Homo sapiens: one gene and its partner. The gene in region 1 interacts genetically with each later gene. Each region holds a gene or a part of one and is shown on either strand. Other genes may lie near its edges.

Region 1 (3,699 bases):
GACTGCCTGGCGCTGGGCCTTGGTGTCAGGCCTCCATCCCTCCCTGCCTGTTAGCTGAGGTCTAGGCTGACCCCTGCCCTCGGCTCTTGGTTGGCTCCCAGGTCTGATGTCACTTTCTTCTCACCACCTGCCCTTGCCTGTTTGCGTCCAGTATGCCTGGGTGGAGAAGTACTTTGGCCCTGACTTTCTGGAGCAGATTGTGCTGACCAGAGACAAGACCGTGGTCTCTGCTGACCTTCTCATAGACGACCGGCCGGACATCACAGGCAAGTGGCCTGCGACAGGTGAGGAGCACGTGGGGAGGGCCCCAGCCTTGGCCCCCTTCTCCTGGGCAGTGAGCACTCAGTTGCTTCCTGCCCCACTTAGTCACCAGCTGTTTGCCAGGCACTGAGCCCCTCCCCTTCGGGAAGACAAGGCCCCCTCTGTATGGGCTGTGGCCTGGTGCTCCTGGGAGCTGGGAGGAGTGGGTGCCAGCTCTAGGGTTAGCTTGAGGGGTGGCCTTGGGGAAGTCCCTTCAGCTTCAAAGCCTTGTCTTCCTCATGTAACATGGGGACTCAACTCTGGTTTCCAAATGTTTGTTTTTAGCAACAAAACCCATTTTTTCCCCCAAAAGCAATGTGGACTGATGCAATGAATGACAGGAGGGCAGAGCAGAGCTCCTGCAGGGAAGGTGGGTTGGGACAGAAGACCCCCCTCCCCAAAACCAAACAAGCCAGTCAACCTTGAACTGCCGTAGAAAGGAGAGGGAGATGGGCGTGGTGACTCACGCCTGTAATTTGGGAGGCTGATGTGGGTGGATGGCTTGAGCCCAGGAGTGTGAAACCAGCCTGGCCAACATAGCGAGACTCTCTCTACAAAAAATACAAAAATTATCTGGGCATGGTGGTGCATGCCTGTAGTCCCAGCTACTTCAGGGGCTGAAGTGGAAGGATTGTTTGAGCCTAGGAGTTGGAGACCAGCCTGGGCAACATGGTGAGACTCCCTGTCTCTACAAAAAAAAAAAAAAAAACACAAAAAAATTAGCTGATCATCATGGCGCATGCCTGTGGTCCCTGCTACTCTGGAGGCTGAGGTGGGAAAATCACCTGAGCTGGGGAGGTGGAGGCTGCAGCGAGCTGTGATTGCACCACTGCATTCCAGTCTGGGTGACAGAGTAAGACCCTGTCTCCAGAAAACAAAACAAAATACAACACAGCACAGGAGAGGGGAAGTTTTTTGGTTTACCTAACTGGAAAGGGGTGAGGAGGGCTTTGGCCGGCCAAATCTAGGCGTTGAAACTGCCCGTGAGTGTTGTTTCTTTGCCTCTTGGCTCTGCCCTGGCCTGGTTTTTGACATCCTCCTCCTGGTAGCCGTCAGTAGTTTCAGGTCGAGTCTTTTGGACACCCCAGTGGGAATATACATTCTATTTTTTTCCCTGATTGTTTTAGAACTGGCTTGGGAAACATGCCCACCTCCATCACTGCGTCCAGAGGGTGGACTCCACGAGTGTACCCACCCCACCCCACCCTCCCCAGCCTCGTGGGTTCCCGCCAGAGTCAGGGCAGACAGTGGTCTGTGGGGTCCCGTGACCTTGAGGGCCCAAAGGCTGGCTTGGCCTCCATCTCCAGCCACAGGTTGTTGGGGGCGGGTGTATAACCCAAAGGGGTGGCATCACCAGCAGCACCAGTGTGGACACGAGGGAATGAGGCCTGGAGAGGCTGCAGGGGCCTGTGATCAGCGGCTGGTGAGCTGCAGAGCTGGTGCCACCTGGCCTTCCCACACCAGGCCATCAGGATGGTGGGGCACAGAGAGGGAAGTTGGGGGAACACCGTGTGGTGTAAGCCATCAGGATGGCAGGGCACGGAGAGGGAAGTCGGGGGAACACCATGTGGTGTAAGCCATCAGGAGGCGGGGCACATGTCCCTTGCCAGTGCTGGTGGTGACAGTGACCCGCAGTCAGTCCCTGTTGACTGAGCACTGGCTGCGCGTGCTGACGGCCTCCTTGCCGCATCTCGTGCCATCCTCACACCCGCTGCGAAGGCGGGTGTGCGTGCAGTCACCCCTTTACAGAGGAAACAAGTTTTGGCAAGGCCAGATGCCTGCCTGGATACCCAGGTTTCCACCCTAGGCGGCTGCGCTCCAGGTCTCCACTGCTGAGCTGAATGCCGCTTTCCCACCCACAGGGGCCGAGCCAACCCCCAGCTGGGAGCATGTCCTCTTCACCGCCTGCCACAACCAGCACCTGCAGCTGCAGCCCCCCCGCCGCAGGCTGCACTCGTGGGCGGACGACTGGAAGGCCATTCTGGACAGCAAGCGGCCCTGCTGAGCTGGACTGTGCTTCGGGCTCCTCTGTGGGGCTCTGACCTCAGGGCTCCCAGCTCGGGGCCTGTGGGGCCAGTATGCTGGTCTGGGAGTCCCTCCTAGACTCCTGGGCCCCATGACCTCCTGCTGCATGTCCCTTCCCTTCCCCAGCCCTGCCAGGCCTTAACCTGATCACGGGGCAGGGCTGGGCCCTCTGGGCGCTTGGACATAGACACGTGGTCCCAGGCCGTTCAGCCTGACCTCAGGCAGCAGGCACCAAGCTGCCAGAAGCCCAGGGGCTCAGGACAGGGAGGAGTTGAGGCCACTGTTCAGGGGGCTGGTGGCCGTCTCCACTCCCTAGGCAAGTTCTCTGAGGCAGAAGGGGGTTCCCTGTTCCCAGAGTCTGCAGCCATCAGCAAGGAGGACCAGGAACCCGGCGACTGAGGTGCTTCCAGGTGGGGACAAGCCCCTCTTGGTCTCAGCCACAGCACCCCTTATTCCAGCTGCCCTGCCCAACCTGCTCACCCCACATGACCTTCTGTGTATTCAGCAAACACTCACTAGGTGACAGCGGCCACCAGGCTCTGTGCTGGGGGACGATACTGGCCCTGGCCTCGACCAGCTTAGAGGTTTCTCACACCTCTGTTCCCAGGGCCCCGCTCAGGGCCCAGCAGAGAGTCCGTAGGCTTGAACATGTGTTGAGTGCATGAAAAATAAATGCTGTTCATGTGTGTAGCTCAAGGCTGTGGCCTGCCCTAAGATCCTCTAGCGTCTGCCCCCACTGGGGACCCAGCTTCAGGTCTTGTAAGTGTCTGGGCAGTTCCACTGCATTGAAGACAGGCGGAGGAAGGCATGACTTCAGCCCATGCCTCGCAGGGTGGGTCCTAGTGGTGGTCTCCTCGGGCCACCCACCCACTCTCGTTGGTGAGACTTAGGAGGTGGGTCTTAGTGGTGGTCTCCTCGGGCCACCCACCCACTCTCATTGGTGAGGTTTAGGAGATGGGCTCCAGACACTCGGTTGCTCTCTCAAGTGCCTCCTTCCCGCACCTGCCCCAGTGCTTCAGAGCAGGGTCCCCCGTCCCCCTCTCCTCCGCTCTTCTCCCAAGGCCAAGTTTCTGTGGGATCGCAGGAGCCCTGTGGGGAAGGCTGGTGTTAGAGTCTCAGCTTCTGTTCCTTTTGACCCGCTGGGAAGTGACAGCTTGAACCAGCCACCTCCCCACTAACCTTTGGAGAGGTTTTGGGACCACTTTCTTGTCCTTATGCCCTTCCCGTTACTGCTCTGGCCGCTCTCCCATCATGGCCCTTGAAGGGAACATGGGTTGCCCATGCCCCTAATTCACCCCAGCTCTGGGGCCCTCCTGGCAGGCCTCTCTGCCTTATATGACAGAGATGCTTTGGGCTGCCCTGGAGGCAGGGTCA
Region 2 (3,450 bases), on another chromosome or scaffold:
CTTGAGTCCAGGAGACCGAGGTTACAGTGAGCCAAGATCGCACCACTGCACTCCAGCCTGGGCAACAGGGCCAGACTCGCTCTCAAAAAAAAAAAAAAAAAAAAAAGCAAAAAAACTTCCTCCAGGGAGGATGGACAGGGTCGGGGCCCCTCTCTGAAACCACCTGTGAGCCCTAGCAGCTGAGCTGAGCCGCTCCCCCTCCAGGGCCACCTGCATGTGGCTCCAGACGGGGCAGGGGCTCCCACGTGGGACACAGCAGCATCCCGTAAGGCGCAAAGGGACAGGAAACGCTTCTGATCCACCTCAGCTGCCCAGAGCTTCCACCTCATTGCAATCAAAACACTCGGGGCAGCTGAGACCAAGATCCGGCAGCTCCCAGGACACCGTGAAGGTCTGCGAGGACCCCCGGTTTGTCCCCTCCTTCCTGAGCACAGCGGCAGGCATGGAACACAGAGAGAAACATGAACGCCGCGGAGGGCATATCCCCAGTGGCCAAGGGCTGGCTGTCCCCTGCCAAGGCCTGAGGCACACAACACCCGCGTATCTGGAAGCCAGTATTTTATTTCTCTTGGCTGCAGAGGGCCGCTCTTGCCTAGGCGTCCACAGGCGCGACGATGGGGCTCGCGGAGGAGTCCGCAGCAGGGCACCCCACACCCGGGGGACCGGCCTCGGCGAGAAGGGCACACAGTGGAAGACCCCACCAAGCCCGGCGCCACCCAGCAGCGTGGGGACTGCCTGTCCGCCGTCCATCCCACCCTCCCCGTCCCACGACCTCCTCCTGGGCTAATGGCAGCAACAGGCAGCACCCCGCCGAATTGTCCGTGCAACTACCCGCAAACCCTCCTCCGGGCCTGAACCAGGGCTGCATTCGGGCCGCCTCTGCGCCTCGGTGGGTCCCAACCCTCACGGTGCCACAGGCCACGCTGCCTGGAGGGTCCCAGGGTCACCGACGATGCAGGGGTGAAGGTGAAGGCCAGCGTGGAGGCTGTGTAGAGAAGCAGCCCCGTCCCACACCCACCCCTGCCTGCGAACTTACGGGCCTGGCTCCAGCTCCTCCCACTCCGCCTCCAGCCTGGTGGCGCTGGGCAAGGACAGGCACCCGGGCGATGGGAGGCGCAGCGTCCACAGGAAGCGCCCCCACCGCAGGCCGAGCTCCGGCTGTCCTGGGGCCTGGCCCACCCCACTGCGCCTAGCGCAGCCCGCACTCCACGCCCTGCAGCTTCTCCTGCTCCAGGGCGCGCACGAGGTCCTGCACGAAGCGCATCTCGGAGGCTACTTGCTTGGCCAGCGCCTCGTAGCGGTTCTCCAGGCGGCTGAAGCGGCGCTTGAGGCCGCTGGTCCCCAGCAGCGCGCCCTTGGCCTCCTCCTGCGCCTGCCGCTTGAGCGCCTCGGTCTTGAGCAGCTCCTGCCGTAGCCTCCGCAGGTCCTGGCCCAGGCTGTCGCTCTCCTCGCGGTACCAGGCCTCCTTCTCCTCGTAGATGGCGGCCAGCGCCTCCACGTCCTCGTGGCAGAGCCGCCGGCTGCGCTGCAGCTCGCGCAGGCCCTCCTCGGCGGCCGCCGCCTCCTCCAGCACCTTGGAGAAGCGCTCGAAGTCGGCGTAGCTGTTGTTGGGCGGCAAGCTGGAGTGCGACTTGATGGTGTACTCCTTCAGACGCGTGGTCTTCAGGCGCCGCCGCTCGGGCTTGCGGCCGCTGTCCTCACCACGCACGTTCCGCCGCCGGATCGCCTAGGAAGGAGGGAAGCCTGAGCGGGGTCCCCGCGATGCCACCCAGCCCCGCCAGCCCCCACCTGCCAGTGTGAACTGAGGTTCAGGGGCTCATCCGGCAGCAGAGTCAACGCCTCGTGACGGAGACTGCCCAGCCCGACGCAAAGCCGAGAGTGCTCTCTCGAGAAAAACGCTGCGGCCCTGGCCCCAGGAGTCAGCCCCGTTGGACACACACCAGCCAAGGATGCCACCAGGTCTGTCGGGTGCTGGACATCCCACGCCCAGGACCCAACCCCCGCCACACAGGCTCACTCCTCTGGGGACCCTCCCCAGCCACTGGGGGTTGTCACATCCACAAGCCTTAAATGCTGAAGGCCCCCCGGGACCCCAGCGAGAAGGCCAAGGCGGGAAGCCCAGGGAGCTCCCCCACCTCCCCACTTACCTTAATCCAGGAATGTTCCAGGCTCTGGGCAATGGTCATTCTCCGCCTGGAAGACCCCCGCTCTGGTTAGGTACACCTGCACCATCTGTCCCGTCCTCCCGTGAACAACTGACTCCCGGGACCCCCAAAAGCCCTAAAGTCGCCCCCCAGCCTCTGCTCAGCCAACCACAGAAGCTGAACAAGGGTACTGCAGGGAGCGTGGGGTTTTCTGGGGGGTGGTGGAGAGAGCTGAGACCTCAGGCTGGAGTCGCAAACCCAGGCGCCCGAGAGAGGGACTGGGCGGCCATGGAGGCCCGGGGAGGCCTACGAGTGAGGGCTCAGCACTGCCAGAATTCTAAGTGTTTACAGGAAAACAAGTGACCTGGAATTTTACATGGATCCTTACTTTACACACCGGCAACTAATTAAAAGTTTGCTAAAAACACAGCAAGCAGCCAGACACGGTGTCTCACGCCCGCAATCCCAGCACTTTGGGAGACCAAGGCAGGCAAATCACAAACCAAGGAGGTCAGGAGTTCAAGACAAGCCTGGGCAACATGGTGAAGCCCTGTCTCTACTAAAAATACAAAAATTAGCCAGGCGTGGTGGCGGGCGTCTATAATCCCAGCTACTTGGGAGGCTAACGCAGGAGAATAGCCTGAACCCGGGAGGCAGAGGCTGCAGTGAGCCGAGATCACGCCACTGCACTGCACTCCAGCCTGGGAGACAGAGCAAGACTCCGTCTCAAAAAAAAAGACTCCGTCTCAAAAAAAAAAAAAAAAAAAAACCATGGCAATGGCCAGCTTGGGCCACCAGTTTATCAGTTTACTCTCTCCAGCCCAAGGGGTAAGCAATGTCTGATCCCCAGCCGCAGGGAGGTGGCGCTGGGAGGAGAGTCCTCTGGAGCCTCCGTGGGTGGAGTGGGCCTGTGTCCCATGTCCCACCCCGTGCCCCCTGCCGGCCCCTCGTACTTGGGATCTTTGACGAGCAGCCGGCGAATGAAGTCCTTGGCCAGCTCGCTGGTGTTGCTGAAGTACTCCTCGTCGAAGTCGTAGTTCACGGCTGAGATGTTGGTGAGCGTCTCCTGCTTGGTCTCGCCCAGGAACGGGGATGCACCGCTCAGGCTGCGAGACAGGCGTGGGGGCTCAGTGGGGTCCTGGGCTCCCACCACGGCCGCGCCGCCTCTCCGGCTGCCCACGACAGGCGGAGCACAGAAGACAGGCTGACGGCAGGTGCCTGGGCCACTCACACTCCTGAGCCCTTAGAACCTTCCTGCAACGATCCCAGACACCACCCAAGAGGCATTCAAAATCCACCCCCCCAC

What was found.
Region 2: changes in NT5M (region 1) and DAPK3 together harm fitness less than expected from each alone (positive genetic interaction), as found in Homo sapiens cells (one large-scale study listed by BioGRID).

The regions. Positions count from the first base shown.
Region 1 is NC_000017.11:17,344,643-17,348,341, forward strand, and holds the end of NT5M (5'(3')-deoxyribonucleotidase, mitochondrial isoform 4 precursor), read left to right. Parts: intron 1-101; coding exon of another isoform or gene 102-107; exon of another isoform or gene 108-151; coding exon 152-266; coding exon of another isoform or gene 267-284; intron 285-585; coding exon of another isoform or gene 586-670; intron 671-2,162; coding exon 2,163-2,305; 3' UTR 2,306-3,021; downstream 3,022-3,699. UniProt on the Homo sapiens protein: Dephosphorylates specifically the 5' and 2'(3')-phosphates of uracil and thymine deoxyribonucleotides, and so protects mitochondrial DNA replication from excess dTTP. Has only marginal activity towards dIMP and dGMP.
Region 2 is NC_000019.10:3,957,912-3,961,361, forward strand, and holds the end of DAPK3 (death-associated protein kinase 3), read right to left. Parts: intron 3,251-3,450; coding exon 3,098-3,250; intron 2,194-3,097; coding exon 2,148-2,193; intron 1,727-2,147; coding exon 1,190-1,726; 3' UTR 542-1,189; downstream 1-541. UniProt on the Homo sapiens protein: Serine/threonine kinase which is involved in the regulation of apoptosis, autophagy, transcription, translation and actin cytoskeleton reorganization. Involved in the regulation of smooth muscle contraction.